Homo sapiens: one gene and its partner. The protein of the gene in region 1 interacts with the protein of each later gene in a biochemical or structural test. Each region holds a gene or a part of one and is shown in the gene's direction. Other genes may lie near its edges.

What was found.
Region 2: the proteins of LEO1 (region 1) and TCEA1 form a complex in vitro, tested with the Homo sapiens proteins (2 studies listed by BioGRID and IntAct).

Annotation. Positions count from the first base shown.
Region 1 is NC_000015.10:51,952,728-51,964,247, reverse strand, and holds part of LEO1 (RNA polymerase-associated protein LEO1), read left to right. Parts: intron 1-1,754; coding exon 1,755-1,859; intron 1,860-3,514; coding exon 3,515-3,609; intron 3,610-4,203; coding exon 4,204-4,349; intron 4,350-5,421; coding exon 5,422-5,506; intron 5,507-9,672; coding exon 9,673-9,767; intron 9,768-10,984; coding exon 10,985-11,119; intron 11,120-11,520. UniProt on the Homo sapiens protein: Component of the PAF1 complex (PAF1C) which has multiple functions during transcription by RNA polymerase II and is implicated in regulation of development and maintenance of embryonic stem cell pluripotency.
Region 2 is NC_000008.11:54,017,216-54,028,538, reverse strand, and holds the start of TCEA1 (transcription elongation factor A protein 1), read left to right. Parts: upstream 1-6,090; 5' UTR 6,091-6,413; coding exon 6,414-6,476; exon of another isoform or gene 6,477-6,506; intron 6,507-11,323.

The DNA of each region.
Region 1 (11,520 bases):
ATGTCCCTGCAAAGGACATGAACTCATCCTTTTTTTTTTTTTGAGACGGAGTCTCGCTCTGTCTCCCAGGCTGGAGTGTAGTGGCATGATCTCAGCTCACTGCAAGCTCCGCCTCCTGGGTTCACGCCATTCTCCTGCCTCAGCCTCCCGAGTAGCTGGGACTACAGGCACCCGCCACCACGCCCGGCTAATTTTTTGTATTTTTAGTAGAGACAGGGTTTCACCGTGTTAGCCAGGATGGTCTCGATCTCCTGACCTCGTGATCCGCCTGCTTCGGCCTCCCAAAGTGCTGGGATTACAGGCGTGAGCCACTGCGCCCGGCCACTCATTTTTTTTTTTTTTTTTTTTTTGAGACAGAGTCTCTGTCATCCAGGCTGGAGTGCAGTGGCACCATCTTGGCTCACTGCAATCTCCACCTCCTGGGTTCAAGCAATTCTTCTGCCTCAGCTTCCTGAGTAGCTGGGATTAAAGGTGTGCACCACCAAACCCAGCTAATTTTTGTATTTGTAGTAGAGAGGAAGTTTCCCCATGTTGGCCTGGCCGGTCTCGAACTCCTGATCTCAGGTGATCTGCCCACCTTGGCCTCCCAAAGTGCTGGGATTACAGGCAAGAGCCACCATGCCTGGCCGAAAGTAGGGCTGTTTTTACTGTTACCAGAAAGAATCTTTAAGGCTCATGTACTACATCCCAAATACTAGAAGACCAAGTCAAGGGCAGGGTCATAGTAGGGAACCTTGTAGCTGGTCATTCTGCTTATCTCTTACTAGTTCAACAGTGGTTCTGTTGATTTTTGTGACATTTTTACGTAAATAATTGGCCCTTCTAGAAATAATGATATATTTGTCAGTTCCTTTTTAATCTTTTTACCTTTTTTTCCCTGAAATTTGTCTTATGTAAATTTGATAAGTTTTAGTGCTACTTTTCTCATTTCTACCAAGTTTTTGTACTTGCAAAGCCAGTATATTTATTTATTTGAGACAGTCTCGCTCTGTCACCCAGGCTGGAGTGCAGTGGTGCGATCTTGGCTCACTGCACCATCAGTCTCCCAGGTTCAAATGATTCTCTTGCCTCAGCCTCCTAAGTAGCTGGGACTACAGGTGCACGCTACCACACCCGGCTAATTTTTGTATTTGTAGTAGAGATGGGTTTCACCATGTTGGCCAGGCTGGTCTTGAATTCCTGACCTCAAGTGATCCACCCACCTCGTCCTCTCAAAGTGCTGGGATTACAGGCATGAGCCACCACAACTGGCACCAGTATTTATTTTAAGAATTCTGTTTTTTAAATTAACACACACTAGAGTTAATTTTTTGGGGGGGGGGCATGTTCTGCATGTACAGCTCTATTCATGTTAACATATCTATAGATTTGTCTAACCACCACCACACTCAGGATGCAGAATCGCTGTCACACTGAAAAACTCCCTTATGCTATCCCTTTTGAGTCGTATCTTTCTGCTACCCCTAAACCCTGGCACCTACTGGTCTTTTCTGTCACTAAACTTTTGGTTTTTTGGAAATGTCATATAAATAGAGTTATACAGTAAGTATGTAGTCTTTCAGATTGGCCTCTTTAACTTGGCATATAGCATTTTTGATTCATCCAATTGGTTACATGTATCAGCAGTTCATTCCTCTTTATTGCTGAGTAGTAGTCCATTGTATCACAATTTGTTTATCTCCAATATTGCTTTTAAAACACAAAATTCAACTAATGCGACTGATTATGCAGAACTTCTAATTCTACCCTTATAGAATCTGCAAGAGGCAGTGATAGTGAAGATGAAGTTTTACGAATGAAACGCAAGAATGCGATTGCATCTGATTCAGAAGCGGATAGTGACACTGAGGTGCCAAAAGGTATCCCTATTATTATATATATATGTATATTTCCATACCTCTTTCTGTATTTAACTGTAGTGCATTTCTAACCCTGAGTGTGTTTACCCCAGATCGCCAGACCCACAGAATAAGAGTGTGGATACGCTCAGTGTACTCAGAGAAGTTATATAGCTATGAGAAGCTGCTCATGCTTAATTAGTTGAAGAAGAACCTGCCTCTTTGTAGTTTTTTTTTTTTTTTTTAAGAGACAGAGTCTTGCTCTGTCACCCACGCTGGAGTGCAGTGGTGCAAGCTCAGCTTATTGCAACTGCTGCCTCCTGGGTTCAAGCAATTCTCCTCCCTCAGCCTCCTGGTAGCTGGAATTACAGGAACGTACCACCATGCCTGGCTAAATTTTTTGTATTTTTAGTAGAGGTGGGGTTTCACTATGTTGGCCAGGTTGGTCTCGAACTCCTGATCTCAAGTGTTCCACCCACCTCAGCCTCCCGAAGTGCTGGGATTACAGGCGTGAATCACTGCGCCCAGTCTGTTTATAGTTAGAGTGAATTCATTATTAGGGGGCTGACCTTCTTATTGGGATGGAGGTTACAATGTCCATTCTTCACTTTGAATAATGACAGTCTCGGTGTTTTGTTCCTAAGTTCTTGACTTAGATGAAGAAACTGATTCTTTGAGCTGTGAGTTAGATGAAGAGCTCATAAAAACCCAGTGTTGGCTGGGTGCAGTGGCTCACGCCTGTAATCCCAGCACTTTGGGAGGCCAAGGTGGGTGGATCACTTGAGGCCAGGAGTTCAAGACCAGCTTGGCCAACATGGTGAAGCCCTGTCTGTACTAAAAATACAAAACATTAGCGGGGCGAGGTGGTGTGCATCTGTAGTCCCAGCTACTTGGGAGGCTGAGGCACGAGAATCGCTTGTGCTCGGGAGGCAGAGGTTGCAGTAAGCCAAGGTCGCACCACTGCAGTCCAGCCTGAGCAACAACAGTGAGACTCTGTCTCAAAACAACAACAACAACCGCAACCACCACCACCACCACCACCACCACCACCACCACCTGGTATTATAAGTTGGAAGGATGAAAGGAGTTCTACCGCCAGGTGTGGCAGCTTCCTTTCTCCTGCCTCAGCCTCCCAAGTAGCTGGGATTACAGGCACCTGTCACCAAGCCCAGCTAGTTTTTGTATTTTTAGTAGAGACGGGGTTTCACCATGTTGGTCAGGCTGGTGTCAAACTCCTGACCTTAAGTGATCCACCTGCCTTGGCCTCCCAAAGTGCTGGGATTACAGGCATGAACCACTATGCCTGGACTGTAATTTTGAATCTGGGATAGACTTATGGAAAATGGGTGTCTGTGGAGTGCTTCAGCCCCAACTTTGAGCATCTAGACTGTAGGAAACATTTGGGCTCCTGGGGAATAAAGGAAAGTGGGAGAACAAGGATGGTGAAAATGAAAGGAGAAATAAGTGCCTCCTGTGCAGCTTGCCTTTCACTAGATTTGCCCCCTTCCCTCTCCCCACACTCTCTGGTTGGGTCTTTGAGAGCCAGGCTCAGCATTATGTTTTTGGTGGTTTTCTGATGCTGGTCCAGAAACCTTGGGAATGTGTTGAAGTGATCAGCTGTGAAGAACCTTAGTTACAGATAGTAACACTAATGCCTTTTTCCTTCTGCATTGAAGATAATAGTGGAACCATGGATTTATTTGGAGGTGCAGATGATATCTCTTCAGGGAGTGATGGAGAAGACAAACCACCTACTCCAGGACAGCCTGTTGTAAGTCAGTTAGTAACATGAACTTATTCAAGGCCAGGCATAAAGTTTCAAAGGTGAAGAGTCTCCCTTATTCCAGGAAAGGAAGTTGATAACTGAATTCTAGTATGAAAATACCATGAACAGATGACTTTCTTCATTATGTAGGGAACTCTTGGTTATAAGGGGGAGTGGAAATAACTGCCAAACATGAGGTTGGTGTCATGCCTTAGGGGACTGAACTGTGAGGACTTGTGATTTGAGAACCATTGACTTGAATGTTTTTCTTGCTCATGCCAAGAAGTGTCTGCTATGTTGATAATCTTCTCTGGTTTTAATTGATAGAGTGACTTCCTATTGAAGTGTTAATTTCACACTTTTGTTGAGTATTTGGAAGACAGATTTATCATAAAGGAGATAGTTTTTTGTACTGAGGTATCCAAATTGATCGTTTCCCATTTTGTGTGTAGGTGGGTTGGGATGGGGACTGGGGACTTCTTTAGTCCTAAAGTGATATCTAATTATGTTTCTTGCACCCCAGAGTAATTAAAGTGTGGAGGTTGAAGGAAGCCATTTCTAAGGTCCTGTCAAGCTCCAAACTTCCGATTCTTTCACTAGGATGAAAATGGATTGCCTCAGGATCAACAGGAAGAGGAGCCAATTCCTGAGACCAGAATAGAAGTAGAAATACCCAAAGTAAACACTGATTTAGGAAACGACTTATATTTTGTTAAACTGCCCAACTTTCTCAGTGTAGAGCCCAGGTAAGGAAATCAATTAAAATTTTTTCAGGATGTTGAGTAGAAATACATAGAATGTTTATTTTTCTTATTTCGCATTGAGTTGACAAATCACAAAAACGGAAAATTGATCGTGTATCTCTGAAAAAATTAGTCAAGCACATCCTGAGATAGAAAAAATATGTATTAGTAAGGGAGGCTTTTAATGCTATGATTGTTTTTAGCAGTTTGATACTTTCTTATGAATTAACAGACACCACAAGTGTTCAAGGTATTTTTTTAATTAGTACAACCCTGAAAAGGCTGAAATTGAAAGCGATGAAATTTGCTAGAGAAATGCCAGTGTCCACTGTAGCAGCTATTGTTGGTCTAGAAAAGGTAATGGTTTTGGACAATTAGACAGTGTTTGATGGGTATTATTTACTAAGTTTACTCGAGCTCTTGTGCTTTTAAAATTTTTTTTCCACAGGCACAATGATGTGGAAAGCTAGAGCATATGTTGCCTATTCTTTGGCAGAGTTACATAAGAAGAAGAAAGGATATTTTGAATATTTACCCTTGCTTGTACTTTATTTCAAGCAATATGTATTAACAACAAATTTTAAGAAGTAAAATTACTGGCCGGGTGTGGTGGTTCACACCTATAATCCCAGCACTTTGGGAGGCCGAGGAGGGCGGATCACCTGAGGTCAGGAGTCTGAGACCAGCCTGACCAACATGGAGAAACACCCTGTCTCTACTAAAAATACAAAATTAGCCAGGCATGGTGGCGCATTCCTGTAATCCCAGCTACTCGGGAGGCTGAGGCAGGAGAATCGCTTGAACCTGGGAGGCGGAGGTTGTGGTGAGCCGAGATCGTGCCATTGCACTCCAGCCTGGGCAACAAGAGCAAAGCTCGGTCTCAAAAAAAAAAAAAAAGAAAAAAGTACAATTACTACTTCCTTGAAGTTAAGCATGAAGATATTGATCATTATGATTTTTAAAATTATATTATGATTTTTTGATATAATGGTGTTTATTAATAGAGATGTTATTACATAGCAGTAATATTCTTTATAAAATATGATTAATAGTTTATTTGGAAAACAATTTGTAGACCTTTTGATCCTCAGTATTATGAAGATGAATTTGAAGATGAAGAAATGCTGGATGAAGAAGGTAGAACCAGGTTAAAATTAAAGGTACCATTTCATGCTTTTTCCTTTTTTTTCTTTTATAAAGTAAAACCTGGAGATACTAACTTGAAACTTGAGCTTTTGAAAGTGATTTTTTTACCTAACACTTCACTATATGGCTGTGTTCTTTTGATTGCTTTTGTTGACTATTAGGAAAGAATTTTATTGTACTAAATTCCCATTAATGCTTCTCTTTGATACCTTATACCATCTGGTCACGCTATCAAAGGAGGGCCTCTAATCTTTTAAGTAAGGAGGATGTAGGTTCAGCAGAAGTTTCATCTTTTTATTTTGAGACACGGTCTTGCTCTGTTGTTCAGGATGGAGTACAGCGGCACAAACCCAGCTCTTGGCAGCCTCAATTTCCTGGGTTCAAGTGATCTTCCCATCTCAGCCTCCTGAGTAGCTGGGACTACAGAAAACATGCCACCATGCCCAGCCTTTTTTTTTTTTCTGTAGATATGAGGTCTTGCTGTGTTGCCCAGGTTGATCTTGAACTTCTGAGCTCAAGTGATCCTCCCGCCTTGACCTCCCAAATTGCTGGGATTACAGGCATGATTGCTACTGCACTTGGCCAAGTAGACATTTTAGAATTGAGTTGCACAAGGGAACAAGAGGTGGTTGAATGCATGATACTGAAACTGGAATTATGCATTTTCAATTCTTAAATCCGAAGGATTTCCTGTAAATTTCTTATTTTCTAGTGGGTATTTATATATTTTTTTTTGAGAAGGAGCATCGCTGTGTCGCCCACGCTGGAGGGCAGTGGCATGATCTCAGCTCACTGCAACCTCTGCCTCCTGGGTTCAAGTGATTCTCCTGCCTCAGCCTCCCAAGTAGCTGAGACTACAGGCATGCACCACCATGCCCAGCTAATTTTTGTATTTTTAGTAGAGACAGGGTTTCACGATGTTGGCCAGGTTGGTCTCGAACTCCTGACCTCAGGTGATCCACCCACCTCGGCCTCCCAAAGAGCTGGGATTACAGGTGTGAGCCACCGCGCCTGGCCTTGGTACCTTATTAAATTGTTAGAAAGGGATAGTCTGGCATTTTTTAGGCACTGAATTTTTATATTTTTAATAGTACCATCTCTTCAATGTGGTATATTAACAACTACCTAAATAACCTTGATATAAGATGGTTTCTATCCAAAAGCTTTTCAGTGAGACTTCACTACTCCTCTTAATGGAAATGCAAATCAAATAAGAAAACTGAGATAAACAGGTGCTAATAATTTGTTCAAGATCACACAGTCAACAGATATACTGCTTACACTATTTTTTTTTCCTGTCCTCCCTCCACCACCCATCTACTCATCTGTTTATTAGCCCATCTGTTAATATTATTTCTTTGGGACACATGGATGTATTGATTTAGGCTTAGCAGTATCAATTTTTCATGGTTGTTTTAGTGCCTCTGGCTTTAATTCTACTACTTTTCATTGTTTCCTGTCATATACATATAAACTAATATAGTAGTTCCTTATTCACTTTTTATCAATTTATTTAATTTTGTCTTTTTCCTTTTTCTTACTTTCTGTCATGATGCTACAGCTAGTATCAATATATCTATTATATTTTTAGACCATGTGATACCAGATTCTAGTATGGGTGTCAGACTTCAAAGGCCGGGCATGGTGCCGCATATCTGTAATTCCAGTACCTTGGGAGGCCGAGGTGAGAAGACTGGCCAGGAGTTTCAGACCAGCCTGAGCAACAGAGCAAGACCTTGTCTCTACTAAAAATAAAAAAAAATTAGCCAGCAGAGATGGCGCATGCCCATAGTCACAGCTACTCCAGGAGGCTGAGGCGGGAGGATTGCTTGAGCCCAGGAGTTTGAGGCTGCAGTGAGCTGTGATTGTGCCATTGCACTCCAGCCTGTGCAGCACAGCGAGACCCTGTCTCCCCCCCAAAAAAAAATTTATAAATATGTATTTTACCCTAAAATTTCAGTGCATCAGACTACAAAATGTTGGTGTTTAACATAAACTGTTGTCTTAAAACCTTGGTGTGTGATAGGAAATAACCCTGGACCCTTATTTTCTTGAGTGATGTTTAAGACTACGCTGACCAGTCTTAAAGCATGGTGTAGTTAATTCTTTAAGAACAAGGAACCAGGGAACCAGGTACAGCTTATGTACCTCTCTGAGGTCCCCTGTCTTCAGAAATACTATTATGTGTCCTTCATCCTGATAGGTTAAGACCTAGCAATGTGTCCTATTATAGCATCATTACTATTTGAATCACTTTATATAATAGAAAGCATTTTTTAGAACGGCTTCTCAATTAATAATGGCCTATTTGTGGTTTTTTTTTTTTTTTTTTTGAGATGGAGTCTTGCTCTGTCGTCGCCCAGGCTGGAATGCAGTGGCGCAATCTCAGCTCACTGCAACCCCCGCCTCCCGGGTTCAAGCAATTCTCCAGCCTCAGCCTCCCGAGTAGCTGGAATTACAGGCACATGCCACCATGCCCGGGTAATTTTTGTATATTTTTAGCAGAGATGGGGTTTCACTGTGTTGGCCAGGTAGGTCTTGAACTCCTGACCTCAGGTGATCTGCCTGCCTCGGCCTCCCAAAGTGCTGGGATTACAGGTGTGAGCCCTGCACCCGGCATATTTGTGTATTTATATGTGGCCAACCTATTGTATGAGATGGAAGACAGGAATAGTGACAGATTGTTTTGTTTTCAATCTGAAAATTTCAAACATACACCAATGTATTAAAAACAATATAATGAACTCTTTCATGTGCCCATGACCCACTTCAACAGTTGTCGAGTTAACAATCTTTTGTCATCTACATATTCCCCACCCCAGCTTCCCCAGACTATTCTGAAACAAATTTCAGGTATGACATCATGTTTAATTCATAAATATGATGGAGTTATTCAATCAGCACACTTTATAGCTATTTGTGAGGAATAAATAGGGAAAGGGGAAAAACTGGAAGGGGGAATCATTAGGACCCAGCTGCACAGACATTTGCAGCTAAAGGAGTGGAGATCCAGACGATCTCCGTGGGACTGGGAGCAGCTGTGTTTAGGATTGACACTGGGGGAACAGGCAGAGGGAAGCATGGTCTTGGCATTGGCAGTTTTCACATTGTTGGCTTCTGTCTGTTGCCAGCTTCATTCTCATTCTTTCTATCCTTGTATGTCCTGTTTTTACTCTTCATTGTCATTTTAGTGGGTTTCCAGGAGGCAGCAGTGATAAACTGCATGCGTTTAGTATGCCATGTTTTCCTGGAGATCCCACTGACTTTACTTTCAGTAACAGTGGTTTTCATTTGCCAACTCTGGTGTTTCCCCACCATGCAGGTAAGATAGTTAGGCTCTAAACCTATTGAAATCTGGGGTTTTCATTTTCATAGGGCACTTATTTATCCTTATTCATATATGGGAAGTTTATCTCTCTGTGCCAATAGGCAGAGTTTTTGGTCTCATTTTTATGGAGTTTTTAGCTCTGTGAGAGAACTTGCTTTATACAGGGGTTTCACTTCAAAATTTCTTCCTCGGCCGGGCGTGGTGGCTCACGCCTGTAATCCCAGCACTTTGGGAGGCCCAGGCGGGCGGATTATGAGGTCAGGAGATCGAGACCATCCTGGCTAACACGGTGAAACCCTGTCTCTACTAAAAAATATGAAAAAATTAGCCGGGCTTGGAGGTGGGCGCCTGTAATCCCAGCTACTGAGAAGGCGGAGGCAGGAGAATGGCGTGAACCCGGGAGGCGGAGCTTGCAGTGAGCCAAGACTGCGCCACTGCACTCCAGCCTGGACGACAGAGCAAGACTCCGTCTCAAAAAAAAAAAAAAAAAAAAATTTCTGCCTCACATGGACTCAAGTTTTATCGCCTGACCCTTGTAATTCTTACTGTCTTAACACATCTCGGGGTTAGTGTACATTTAGTATCTGCCATCTGCTCAAATGCTCTAAGCTTTCTCTATGATTATGATTCTAGGAGCTCAGAAATTCACTTAAGCATATTTTTTTCCCTGCTTTTAATTTATCCAACCTCTCTAGGTGATTAAAGAGGGTTTCAGTGTTGTTCATTCTCCTGCCACACATACATCTGTCACCTCTGTATGCTTATTCTGTGATTATGTGCCTCTTGAGGAAAAACAAGATGCATAGAGTCATTTAAACTATAATTTTCTAAAGTACTTGTGTTGTGAAACAGGTAGAAAATACTATAAGATGGAGGATACGCCGAGATGAAGAAGGAAATGAAATTAAAGAAAGCAATGCTCGGATAGTCAAGTGGTCAGATGGAAGGTGAGCACAAAACGCCTGAAGGGTATTGACATACCCAGAACGGGTCAGAGGGATCAAGTTTTGAAATACTTTTTAGTTTTAAATTTATTATTAGTTTTAGAAATGGGGTCTCACTCTGTTGCCCATGTTGGAGTGTAATGACATGATAACAGCTCAGTGGAGCCTCAGACTCCTAGTCCTAAGTGATCCTCCCATCTCCCAAGTAGCTGGGACTACTTGGTGTGCACCACCCTGCATGGATTATTAAAAAAAAAAAAGAGCCAGGCACGGTGGCTCACGCCTGTAATCCCAGCACTTTGGGAGGCCGAGGTGGGTGGATCACGAGGTCAGGAGTTCAAGACCAGCCTGGCCAAGATGGTGAAACCCCATCTTTACTAAAAATTAGCTGGGTGTGATGGCGGACGCCTGTAATCCCAGCTACTCAGGAGGCTGAGGCAGAGAATTCCTTGAACCCAGGAGGCGGAGGTTGCAGTAAGCCGAGATCGCGCCACTGCACTCCAGCCTGGGCAACAGAACTAGATGCCGTCTCAAAAAAAAAAAAAAGAAAAAATTTCATAGACACAGTTCTCCATATGTTGCTTAGGCTGGTCTTGAACTCCTGGGCTCAAGCGATCCTCCCATCTCCCAAGTGCTGGGATTACAGGCGTCAACCACCGTGCCCAGCCACAAATTGACATTTTAAAAAAATTGCCCTTCACTGGGAATGTAGTAGAGCCTGGTAAACATCCCAGCATGTGTTAGTTCTTTGTAGTCCATCAGTTTTTCTCATTATGACTTCTTATTTTCGTTCCTTCCAAATTCTGTGTAAAAAGAGAGAGCAGCAGTTGAATCACCTGTTTTGTTTTGTTTTTTTTTTTCCTTGAGATGGAGTCTTGTCCTGTCGCCCAGGCTGGAGTGCAGTGGCACGATCTTGGCTCACTGCAACCTCCACTTCCCGGGTTCAAGCAGTTATCCTGTCTCAGCCTCCCGAAGGCTGGGACTACAGGGGTGTGCCTCCATGCCTAGCTGATTTTTGTATTTTTACCAGAGATGGGGTTTCACCATGTTGACCAGCCTTGTCTCAAACTCCTGACCTCGTGATCCACCTGCCTTGGTGTCCCAAAGTGCTGGGATTACACATGTGGGCCACTGTGCCCAGCCTGAATCACCTTTAAGTGAAGTAAGATGGTAGAGTGAAAGCTTTATGACTTTAATAGATGAAATGTTTCTCTTTCCAGCATGTCCCTGCATTTAGGCAATGAAGTGTTTGATGTGTACAAAGCCCCACTGCAGGGCGACCACAATCATCTTTTTATAAGACAAGGTACTGGTCTACAGGGACAAGCAGTCTTTAAAACGAAACTCACCTTCAGGTAACTGTTATTATTATTATGTATTATTTCTTATGGTAAAAGCAGTGAAACATAGATGTTTCTGTAATGCCTGCCACCTGATTGATGTAACCCCACGGTATGATTCAGCAAGAACCAAGATCTTGTGCATAGTTCTGAAGGTTCAAAGGTTATTTTGTCAAATACACTAAAAGTTGCTGTTTCTTAGGGAACCAGGTCATGCTAACCAGACTTACAAGAGACTGTTAGGTAAACCAGAATGTCAATGTATTTAATTCCAGTGGTTATTATAACTGCCAAGAGGCCTAAAATACGTGTGTCTGCTAGCCAGTGTGTCCTTTGTTTTTAGTAAAATTGACCTGGGAGACTAATAACTAGAGGTTGTTGTTGTGCATGCAATCGAAGGAAAGCCAGCAAGTTGG
Region 2 (11,323 bases), on another chromosome or scaffold:
GATCTCGCTCTGTCGTCCAGGCTGGAGTGTAGTGGCACAATCATAGCTCACTGCAACCTCTGTCTCCCAGACTCAAGTGATCCTCCCACCTCAGCCTCCCCAGTAGCTGGGAGTACAGGTACATGCCACCATGCTTGGCTATTTTTTTTTTTTTTTTAATTTTTAGTAGAGGTGAGATCTCACTATGTTGCCTCCCTATGGTGTTTGATCTTGAACTCCTGAGCTCAAGCAATCCTCCCACCTCAGCCTTCCAAAATGCTGGGATCACAGGTGTGAGCCACCATGCCCGGCCAAAGAATTTTTAAAAATCATAATCATACAAAGTATTTCTTTAACTATAATGTGATGAAGCTAGATATAAATAACAGAAGGAAAAAGTAATTTCACAATTATGTTCAAATAATACATTCACACAACTTCAAAAAGAAATCAGAAAATAGAACAATATTTTGAGACAAATGAAAACAAAGCTACGATATACCAAAATTTATGAAATGCAGTGAAAACAGTGCTCAGAGGGAAATTTATAGCTCAAAAAGAATAATCTCCGCCAGGTGCAGTGGCTCATGGCTGTAATCCCAGCACTTTGAGAGGCTGAGGCGGGTGGATCACCTGAGGTCGGGAGTTCGAGACCAGCCTGACCAACATGGAGAAACCCCGTCTCTACTAAAAATACAAAATTAGCTGGACGTGGTGGCACGTGCCTATAATCCCAGCTACTTGGGAGGCTGAGGCAGGAGAATTGCTTGAACCCGGGAGGTGGAGGTTGCAGTGAGCAGAGATCACGCCATTGCACTCCAGCCTGGGCAACAAGAGTGAAACTCCGTCTCAAAAAAAAAAAAAGAAGAAAAATCTGACATTAATTACCTAACTTTATGGCTTAAGGAATTGGAAAAAGAGAAGAAAAGTAAACTGCAAAATGTCAGAAGGAAATAATAAAGATTAATTAGAGACAAAAGAAAAGATTAGGGCAGGGAACCATGGCTCATCCCTGTAATCCCAGCACTTTGGGAGGCCAAGGTGGGAGGATCTCTTGAGCCCAAGACATTGAGGCTGTAGTGAGGTATGATTGTGCCACTGCACTCCACCTGAGTGACAGAGCAAAACCCTGTCTCAATAAAATAAAAATTAATAAAATATAATATAAATAAATAACAAAATAAAATACCAAGAATAATTTTAGCCAATGAGGTGAATTTAGCCAAGAGTTGCACACTGAAAATTATGTTATATTGCTTAAAGAAATTAAAATAGATCTAAATAAATGGAAAGATATCCCGTTGTAATGAATTGATAGACTTAATGTTGTTAAAATGGCAATGGTCAATCTTCATGACCTTGGATTTGCAACTCTTTCTGAGATTTGACACCAAAAGCACAAGTAACAAAAGCAATATATGAATTGGACTTTGGTAAAATATAAAGTTTGTGCATGAAAGGTCAATATCAAGAGACTGAAAAGAGGCTGGGCGAGGTGGCCTACATCTGGAATCCCAGCACTTTGGAAGGCCGAGGCGAGAGGATTGCTTGAGTTCAGGAGTTTGAGACCAGCCGGGGCAACATAGTAAGACCCTCTCTCTACAAATAATCCAGAAGTAGCTGGGCATGGTGGTGTGTGCCTGTAGTCCCAGCTACTCAGGAGGCAGAGGCAAGAGATTTGCTTGAACCCAAAAAGTGGAGGCTGCAATGAGCTGTGATCACGCCACAGGACTCAGCTTGGGCGACTGTGAGACCCTGTCTCAAAAAAAAAAAAAAAAAAAGACTGAAAAGATAACCCACAAAATGGGAAGGGAGACAATGATTGAAAAGCATATTTATCTCAAGGCTCTAGAGTCCAGAATTATATAAGAACGTTTACAACTTAACAACATAAACACAACTCAGTTAAAAATTGGGCAAAAGACTAGAATAGACATTTCTCTAAAGAAACCATAGAAGGCCGGGGGAGGTGGCTCATACTTGTAATCCCAGCACTTTGAGAGGCCGACGTGGGTGGATCACCTGAGGTCAGGAGTTCCAGACCAGCCTGGCCAACATGGTGAAGCCCCATCTCTGCTAAAAGTGCGAAAATTAGCCGGGGGTGTTGGTGCTCCCCAGGAATCCCAGCTACTTAGGAGGCTGAGGTGGGAGAATTGCTTGAATCCGGGAGGTGGAGGCTACAGTGAGCTGAGATTGTGCCACTGTAATCCAGCCTGGACTGTTGTCACTCTGTTAGTGAGACCCCATCTCAAAAAAAAAAAAAAAAGAAACCACAGAAATGGCCAACAAGCACATGAAAACATGCTTAACATATTAGGAAAATGCCAATCAAAGACACAATGAGATACCATTTCATACCTCATCAGATAATTAGAATTCTAAAAATGAACTAAACAGGCTGGGCACAGTGTGTCACTCCTGTAATCTCAGCACTTTGGGAGGCCAAGGTGGGCAGATCACCTGAGGTCAGGAGTTCAAGACCAGTCTGGCCAACATGGTGAAACCCAGTCTCTACTAAAAATACAAACCATTCGCTAGGCATGGTGGCAGGCACCTGTAATCCCAGCTACTCCGGAGGCTGAGGCAGGAGAATCACTTGAATCTGGGAGGTCGAGGTTCCAGTGAGCTGAGGTCACGCTATTGCACTCCAGCCTGGGCAATAAGAGCGAAACACTGTATCAAAAAAGAAATAATAAAAATAAAAATAAAGGACAACAACAATTGTTGACAAAGATACAGAGAAGTTCGAGCCCAATGACGTTTCCGATGGGTATGTAAAAATGTTGCAGTTGCTGTGGAAAACAGATGGACAGTTCCTCGAATTTAAATGTAGAATTACCATGAAACCCAACAATTCTACTCCTAGGTTCACACCCAAAAGAACTGAAAACAGGTGTTCCCACAAAACTTTGTACAGGCATGTTCATAGCTGCACTATTCACAAGAGTGAAAATGTGGAGTAGTGAAAGGTGGGTGGAAACAATGCTTATGTCCATCATGTGATGAATGAATTTTAAAAATGTTATCTATAGGAAATGCATATTATTCAGCCATAAAAAGGAATGAAGTACTGACACGGCTACAACACAGGTGAACCTTGAAAACATGCTAAGTGAAAGAAGCCAGTCAGAAAAGGTCACATATTCTAGGATTCTATTTATTAAATATATAAAATGTTCAGAATATTCAAGAGTATAGAGGCAGCCAATTAGTGGTTGCCAAGGGTTGAGGGGAGAAAGGAATCAGGAGTGACTGCTTAATTGATACTGGGTTTCTTTTTGAGGTGATGAACATTTTTGGAAAACTTTTGGGAACTATCGAGTGGTGATGGTGGCACTATATTGTTATCATTAGAAATGCCACTGAATTGTACACTTTTTTATTTTATATTTACTTATTTATTTATGTTTGAGACGGAACCTTGCTCTGTCACCCAGGCTGGAGTGCAGTGGCGCCATCTCAGCTCACTGCAACCTCTACCTCCTGGGTTTAAGCGATTCTCCTGCCTCAGCCTCCCGAGTAGCTGGGATCACAGGCGGCCACCACCAGGACCAGCTAATTTTTGTATTTTTAGTAGAGACGGGGTTTCACTATGTTGGCCAGGCTGTTCTCGAACTCCTGACTTCAGGTGATCCGCCCACCTTGGCCTCCCAAAGTGTTGGGATTACAGGTGTGAGCCACTGCGCCCAGCCAGAGATCTTTATGTTTAAACATAGGTATCTACAGCTATACATTTCCATCTGAGTGTTGCCTTTGCTGTATCCCATGCACACTGGGTATGCACACACCAGGCCTTTACACTTTAAAATAGCTAAAACAGGCCAGGTGAGGTGGCTCACACCTGCAATCCCAGCACTTTGGGAGGCCGAGGTGGGCAGATCACCTGAAGTCAGGAGTTTGAGAACACCCTGCCTAACATAGTAAAATCCCATCTCTACTAAAAATACAAAAATTACCAGGGCGTGGTGGTGGGCACCTGTAATCCTAGCTACTTGGGAGGCTGAGGCAGGAGAATTGCCTGAACCTGGGAGGCAAAGGTTGCAGTGAGCCGAGATCACGCCACTGCACTCCAGCCTGGGTGATAGGCCGAGACTCCGTCTAAAAAAAAATAAAAAATAAAATAAAATGAATTAAAATCTAAAAAAATAGTTAAAAATGGTCTTAGACAAGGTAGCATGAAAAAAGAAGAAAAGTAGTTAAATGGATAAATTTTGTGTTATGTGTATTTTAAAGAAAAACATCAACTGATTCTTTGGGAAAAAAGAAAAATGACAGAATTATTACAATAAATGTACAAATCCACATTATAAAGGGAAATTTTTACATACTCATTAATTGAGGCATGAAGCAGACAGCAAACAGGGATGTAAATATTGCAACATTTTCTGTAGAAAACAATTTTTTTCTGTGTGTTCTTTTTTAGAACACATAGATATGCATAAAAATTGACGAGATAGGCCGGGCGCAGTGGCTCACGCCTGTAATCCCAGCACTTTGGAAGGCCGAGGTGGGCGGATCACCTGAGGCCAGGAGTTCGAGATCGGCCTGGCCAACATGGTGAAACTTTGTCTCTACTAAAAACACAAAAAATTAGCCGGGTGTGCTGGTGGGCGCCTGTAGTCCCAGCTACTCAGGAGACTGAGGCAGGAAAATCGCTTGAACCTGGGAGGTGGAGGTTGCAGTGAGCCAGCCGAGATGGCACCACTGCACTCCAGCCTGGTCAATAAGAGCAAAACTCCGTGTCAAAAAAAAAAAAAAATTGACAAAATAAATCTCAACAAATACTACAATTTAAGCTGGAAATCAATAATAAAAAGATAATTTAAAAATGAAACAAAATAGGGAAACGATCCCAATACTTCTCCCCCAAATGAGTGAGTCATAACCAGGAAAAACCTGTCATCTCAGTATAGAAAGAACATTATTAGGCGGTGTATTTTGATGAATGATAGTTACGTGGTGTGGGAGTTATACCTGCAAATAGCATGAGTTGGTCGTGAAGGGTTTAAGTGGGGAAAGACTTTTTGGAGGAGCCTGCATTCTCCACTATGAACCCTGTCACAACTTAAGTCACCTTCCTCTCTGATCCTCAGAAGCTGGTGGGATGCCTTGTGTAATTTCTGACCAGAAGGTTTCCGTCAACTGTTCTTCAACTATTCAAAATGCCATGCCCAAGACTGGTTCTTAGTACTCCAGGAGCTCACGAACGATTTCACCTTTATTTATTTTTTATTTTTTTTGAGACGGAGTTTCGCTCTTGTCGCCCAGGCTAGAATGCAATGGCAGTCTCGGCTCACCGCAACTTCCGCCTCCCGGGTTCAAACGATTCTCCTGCCTCAGCCTCCCGAGTGGCTGGGATCACAGGCCATGACGCCCGGCTAATTTTGTATTTTTAGTAGTGACGATGTTTCTCCATGTTGGTCAGGCTGGTCTCGAACTCCTCACCTCAGTTGATCCGCCCGCCTCGGCCTCCCAAAGTGCTGGGATTACAGGCATGAGCCACCGCGCCCGGCCGATTTTTTTTAAAAAAAGGAACGCTTAGCCGGGTGCAGTGGCTCAGGTCTGTAATCGCAGCACTTTGGGAGGCCGAGGCGGGCGGATCACTAGGTCAAGAGATCAAAACCATCCTGGCCAACATGGTGAAACCCTGTCTCTACTAAAAATACAAAAAATTAGCAGGGCGTGGTGGCGGGCGCCTGTAGTCCCAGCTACTCGGGAAACTAAAGCAGGAGAATCGCTTGAACCCGGGGGGGGGAGCTTGCAGTGAGTGGAGATCGCGCCACTGTACTCCAGCCAGGCGACAGAACGAGGCTCCGTCTCAAAAAAAAAGGAACTCTTAAAACGAGTAACTCCGTAACCTAACTTAGAGGACACGGGTTCCATTTTTCCCCGTAGCAGTCTCCTATGGAGAAAGTGCTTGGCTTCCCACAGACTTTAAAACCTGCCAAAGTTCCATGCTCGGAATCTGCCCCCGTTTCGAGATACTTGGGCCTCCGCGAGTTCTAAAACTCCGGGATGTCCCGATGCAATAGGGGGCCGAAAACCCGCCCCGTGAGGGGGCGGGACCGGAGGTGAACGCGCAGCAAAACCGGGCGCCTTCCACGACCCTCTAGCCGGAAGCCACGCCTGCCCACTAGCCCGACGCCCGCCTGGCGGGAACATGGGCTCGCCCCTCACCAGCGATCTGCAGTCAGTTGGTAGCGCCTGCACGTCGCGCGCGGTGTTCGATTGTCGCTGCCTGGGGAGGAGGAGCCGGAGCCGCCGCCGCCGCCGCCGCCGCCGCGGGCTTCGTTCGTAAGGAAGGGGGCCTAGGCCCGGGCCTGCGGTGGTGGGGGTTGCTGCGCGCCGGGGGTCGCTCCTGCTGTGTCTTCCGCTCCAGCTTCGCCCACTTCCCCTTGCCAGCGGGGTGGGCGCGGAGAAGACCTGCCGGAGCCATGGAGGACGAAGTGGTCCGCTTTGCCAAGAAGATGGACAAGATGGTGCAGAAGAAGAACGCGGTGAGCGCGGCGAGCGGCGCGGGCCGGGAGGGAGGCCGGGCCGCGGTCCGGCCCGAGGGGGCCGCCCCCTCCCTCCTTCTCCCTCCCCTCCCCCTGCAGCCTCCCGTCTGGGAGCCGGGCCCGCCGCGCCCGCGTCCCCGGGGAGGGTGTCCGGGCCCGGGGCGTCGGGTCCCGCGGCAACCTGCGTTAGGACCCGCTCGCTCTTGTATTTCCAGTCCCTGCTCGCTGGTGCCGTGTAATAAACCTAATCGATTTAGGGATTAGGGCACGCTCTCCGTTGACTTTAAACTTTCGTGCTAGTAAAACCTTGGCAATTTAGCTTAGGAATTGAAGCGTAGAAAGTCCTCAGAACTTGAAAGAATGGAGTCTTCCGTGATCCGTGGCCAACATCTAGAAAGAGCATCAAATAGAGGCTTGTGATCGGTATTAGACATCGGGCTGGTAAAATGTAAAACTTCTGTGTCTTATTTTTGAAGAGGGCTGAACGTCCGCCTGGTTATCTCAACTGTGCTACATGTTTGCTTAGCGATTAAAAAGGTAAAGTGTGCCAGTTTCTTGGCGAGTTGCTAAACGTTTTATAAAAAGCGGGTTTTGTCCTGTCGTAATGTACAGAAGAGTTAGGACTACAGCACGCACACTCACCGGAATGCTGGTAGAGGGATTTGGACAAATTATATTGTTGGGTATTTTCTAAGTGGTTTACAGTTAATACTGGTGGCATTTTTTTTGTTATTGATGAATATTCATGTAAGCATATGCTTTTGTGGTTTGTAAGAAATCCTCATACGACCAGTTTCTACAGCTTGCCCATTTGTGTGGCACTTTCAGTCCCTTGCTTCAGACTCATCTGTTCTTAGCTAAACATATTTTTTCGAGACGGAGTTTAACTCTTGTTGCACAAGCTGGAGTGCAATGGCTTGATCTCGGCTCACTGCAACCTCCGCCTCTCGGGTTCAAGTGATTCTCCTGCCTCAGCCTCCCGAGTAGCTGGGATTACAGACGTGCGCCACCACGCCTGGCTATTTTTTTGTATTTTTAGTAGAAACGGGGTTTCACCATCTTAACCAGGCTGGTCTCGAACTCCTGACCTCAGGTGATCCGCCCACCTCAGCCTCCCAAAGTGCTGGGATTACAGGCGTGAGGCCACTGCGCCTGGCCTCTCAGGTAAACTTATATAATTGTCCTCACCTAAATTTGTTTAACCACGTTCGGCACATTTTCATCATCAGTGTACCTGAAATAATTTTTCTTCCATCTATGAAGTAAATTCCATGTCAAACTAATGTGAAGAGAAAAGGGATGCTCTGATTTGTACAGCACTTTGGAGTTAAAAAGCATCTGCTCAAAATTCTTTTGTGACTCACACAGAGCTGTGAGTACATAAAGGGTATCCATTTTACAGATTAAGACACTGAGAGAGATTAAGTACTACTACTTAAATTAAGTACTGTGTAGTTTGGAATAAGCCAGGACCCAGGTTTTCTTCTGGACAGCATGCTTTCCACATGACAGCTAGATCAGGAATTAGTGTTAACACTAAATACGTAAGACTTCAAACATCCTCTGTTCCCCTTTTTCCTTTAACAGGTGCATTGCCTCGTATTTCATTTCATACCCTGTTAATCTGTATTTGCAAATTTTGGCCTTTTAAAGTATTTCCTGTTTATTTTCTGTTCTAGATATTACCAGTGCCATTTTTCCTCCCCATTGATATGGCCCTTCATTTCCCACTTCAAATTCTGGTTATTTGATAGGTTATCTGGTTATTGGAACATTTTCGTTATTTTGTTTAAACTGGAAGATTTTTCTCTGGTCTGGAGATCCCCAGACTTGCACAGTAGAAGCTCCCAGGGAAAAAAAGCCATTTGTTGGGTAATGTTCTCTCCAACTTAGGCTGTAATATGTATCCTTTAATCATCTAATGCATTAGATGTTTGCTTGATTTTGTTTCTTTCCTTGTAATAATGTTTCTAAGTAATTTTTTAGTGGGCAGGTGTGGAGAAGATAAATTCATATTTATCTGCAGTTCTCAAATCGTCAACAAATTTTCAGATCTTTTGTAATGAGTCTGGAAGAGAATGAGAATAAACTCCACAAATAATCCTCAAATCTAAGTTTTCTTCTCAAATCTAAGTTTTCAGGTAGTTCAAAACTTTTCCAGTATGAAAACTTGCCTCCCAAAAAGAAAGGTAAAACTGACTGGCTCTTGTACTTTTGTTTTCCCCAGCATTTTCCCTGCCTGTCCTCTGGAAATTCAAACAGGCTGATGAAATACAGAGAAAGAGAAATGGTCAGAATGACACTCCTCTTTTCCCCAACTGCATCATCAGCCTACAGATGGCTTTTTAAGTGTTCAGTAATTCAACAAAATGTGTTTTAGGGGTTGTAGAATTATGGTATATGTGTTTCTCTTTTTTTCGGTAGTTTTCAGATTTTTCTCTCAGCTTTTTTAATGTTTTATATTATGAAAAAGTTAACTTTTTTTTTTTTTTTTTGAGACAGTGTCACTCTGTTACCCAGGCTAGAGTGCAGTGGTGCAATCTCGGCTCACTGCAACCTCCGCCTCCCCAGTTCAAGCGATTCTCTTGCCTCAGCCTCCCTAGAAGCTGGGACTACAGGTGTGCACCACCATGCCTGGCTAATTTTCGTATTTTTAGTAGAGATGGGATTTCAACGTATTGGCCAGGCTGGTCTTGAACTCCTGATCTCAGGTGATCTGCCCGTCCTGGCCTCCCAGAGTGCTGGGATTACAGATGTGAGCCACTGCGCCCAGCCTGAAAAAGTTAACTTTGAAGAGTAATAGTTGTCATCAGAATTGACAAATTTAAGTGCAAATTTAGATATCATTTAAAAAAATATTTTAACATGCTGCTGCTTTACCTGAATAATTTTGTTTTACTAAAACCATAGGTGTCACACTTAACTAAAAACAGCTTACCATTTATTGAGCTATTACTCTGAGCCAGGTATTCTGCTAAATACTTACCCACCTTATCCCATTTATTCCTCAGGCAACTTTGCAAGATGAGTATTATCCTCATTCTGAAAATGAGGATGCTAAGTATTTAGAATAGTCTTAAGCCAAATAGCTAGTGAATGGCCAAGTGAAGATGTGAATCTAAATCTGTTTTGCTCCAAAGCTAGTACTCCTCTCTTAAGCTACAGTGTCTCTCTAGAAGACCCTTGCATCTGCTCTTGAACCATGCATGGATACAATTAAGTGAATACAAAATCAGGAAGTAAGAGTATGAACTTGCTGTTTTGGGGCAGGTGTGTTTCCCTAGTTACCTAGATCAATATCCTGACCCTAGTTCTACCCAAGATGTTGTCCCACATGTGTACTTGATCTCAAGTGCACATGACCAAGCCACAGTGAACCACAGAAAGTAGTTCGAAATTTTTAGGTATTAGCTGTTTTCTGCTTAAGCTGTTTTCTTGTCACTTTGATTCGGTGTCAGTAACCAAGTCTGACTGCTAATGTGGGTTCAAATCCTGGCTTTTCTGAACTTTTCTGAACTTTAGCTGTGTGATTTTAGGCAAGTTCTTTGTCATCACTAAAATGTTTCTCGTCATGGTAAACTGGAGATAATTTAGTAAGGATTAAGTGAATATAAAATGCTTCTAGTGTAGGATTGTGGGCCTAAAGGATGTAATAAGGCCTAAAAAACAATCTGAGGTTGCCTTTCTTTGTAAAGGATTCATTTAGATTATAGAAGGAGGAGTGAGGCAAGGACATAAAGTTTTGAAGTTCATGGAGAGATTTTGTGGGTAGTGCTGAGGTTTATTTATTTATTTCATTGAAGGCTCAAGGTTGAGTGGAATTAAATTGCAGGGAGAGAAATTGAAATTAGATGTTAGAATTTCGTAGGAGCTGGGATACCTGAAATATTGATTTACATTTCCAAGTACCTCAGTTAAAATAACAACTGCAACAAAACTTTGATATCTATATCAGAGTTAGATTAATTAGCATAATTCAAAATTTAGAATGACTATACAATTTTTAATAACAGCTTTATCGAGAAATAGAATTAAATTCATTCTTAAAGTGTAGTTGACTCTTGAACAATGCAAGGGTTGTGGTGCTCACACTATCCCCCCTCCCTACCCGCATGCAGTCAAGTAGTATAACTTTTGTAGTAGTATAACTCATGCAGTCATGTCACTCAGGCTGGAGTGTGGTGGCATGATCTTGGCTCACTGCAACCTCCGCCTCCTGGGTTTAAGCAGCTCTCCCACCTCAGCTTCCCGAGTAGCTGGGACTACAAGTGCGTGCCACCACACCCAACTAATTTTGTATTTTTAGTAGAGATGGGATTTTACCATTTTTCTCAGGCTGGTCTCCACATCCTGACCTCAAGTGATTCACCTGCCTCGGCCTCCCAAATTGCTGGGATTACAGGCGTGAGCCACTGAGCCCAGCCTTTTTTGGGTATTTTTTATAGAGATGGGGTTTCACCATATTGCCCAGGCTGATCTAGAACTCCTGAACTCAAGTGATCTGCCTGCCTTGGCCTCCCAAAATGTTGGGATTATAGGCACTTAGCCTGGGTGACAGAGCGAGACAATGTCTCAAAAAAGAAAAGAAAAGAAATAAAGGAGAGAAAATATGTTTACTGTTCATGAAGTGGAAATGTGTCGTCGTAAAGGTCTTCATCCTCTTTGTCTTCACATTGAATAAGCTGAGGAGAAAGGAAGAGTTGGTTTTGTCATCTAGGGTTGCAGAGGTGAAAGAAAATTCTCAGGTGAATCTGTGCAGTTTAAACCCATGTTATTTGAGGGTCAACTGTTAATTCAGTGGCTTTTAGTGTATTTACGGGTTTGTGCAACTATTACTACTGTATAAT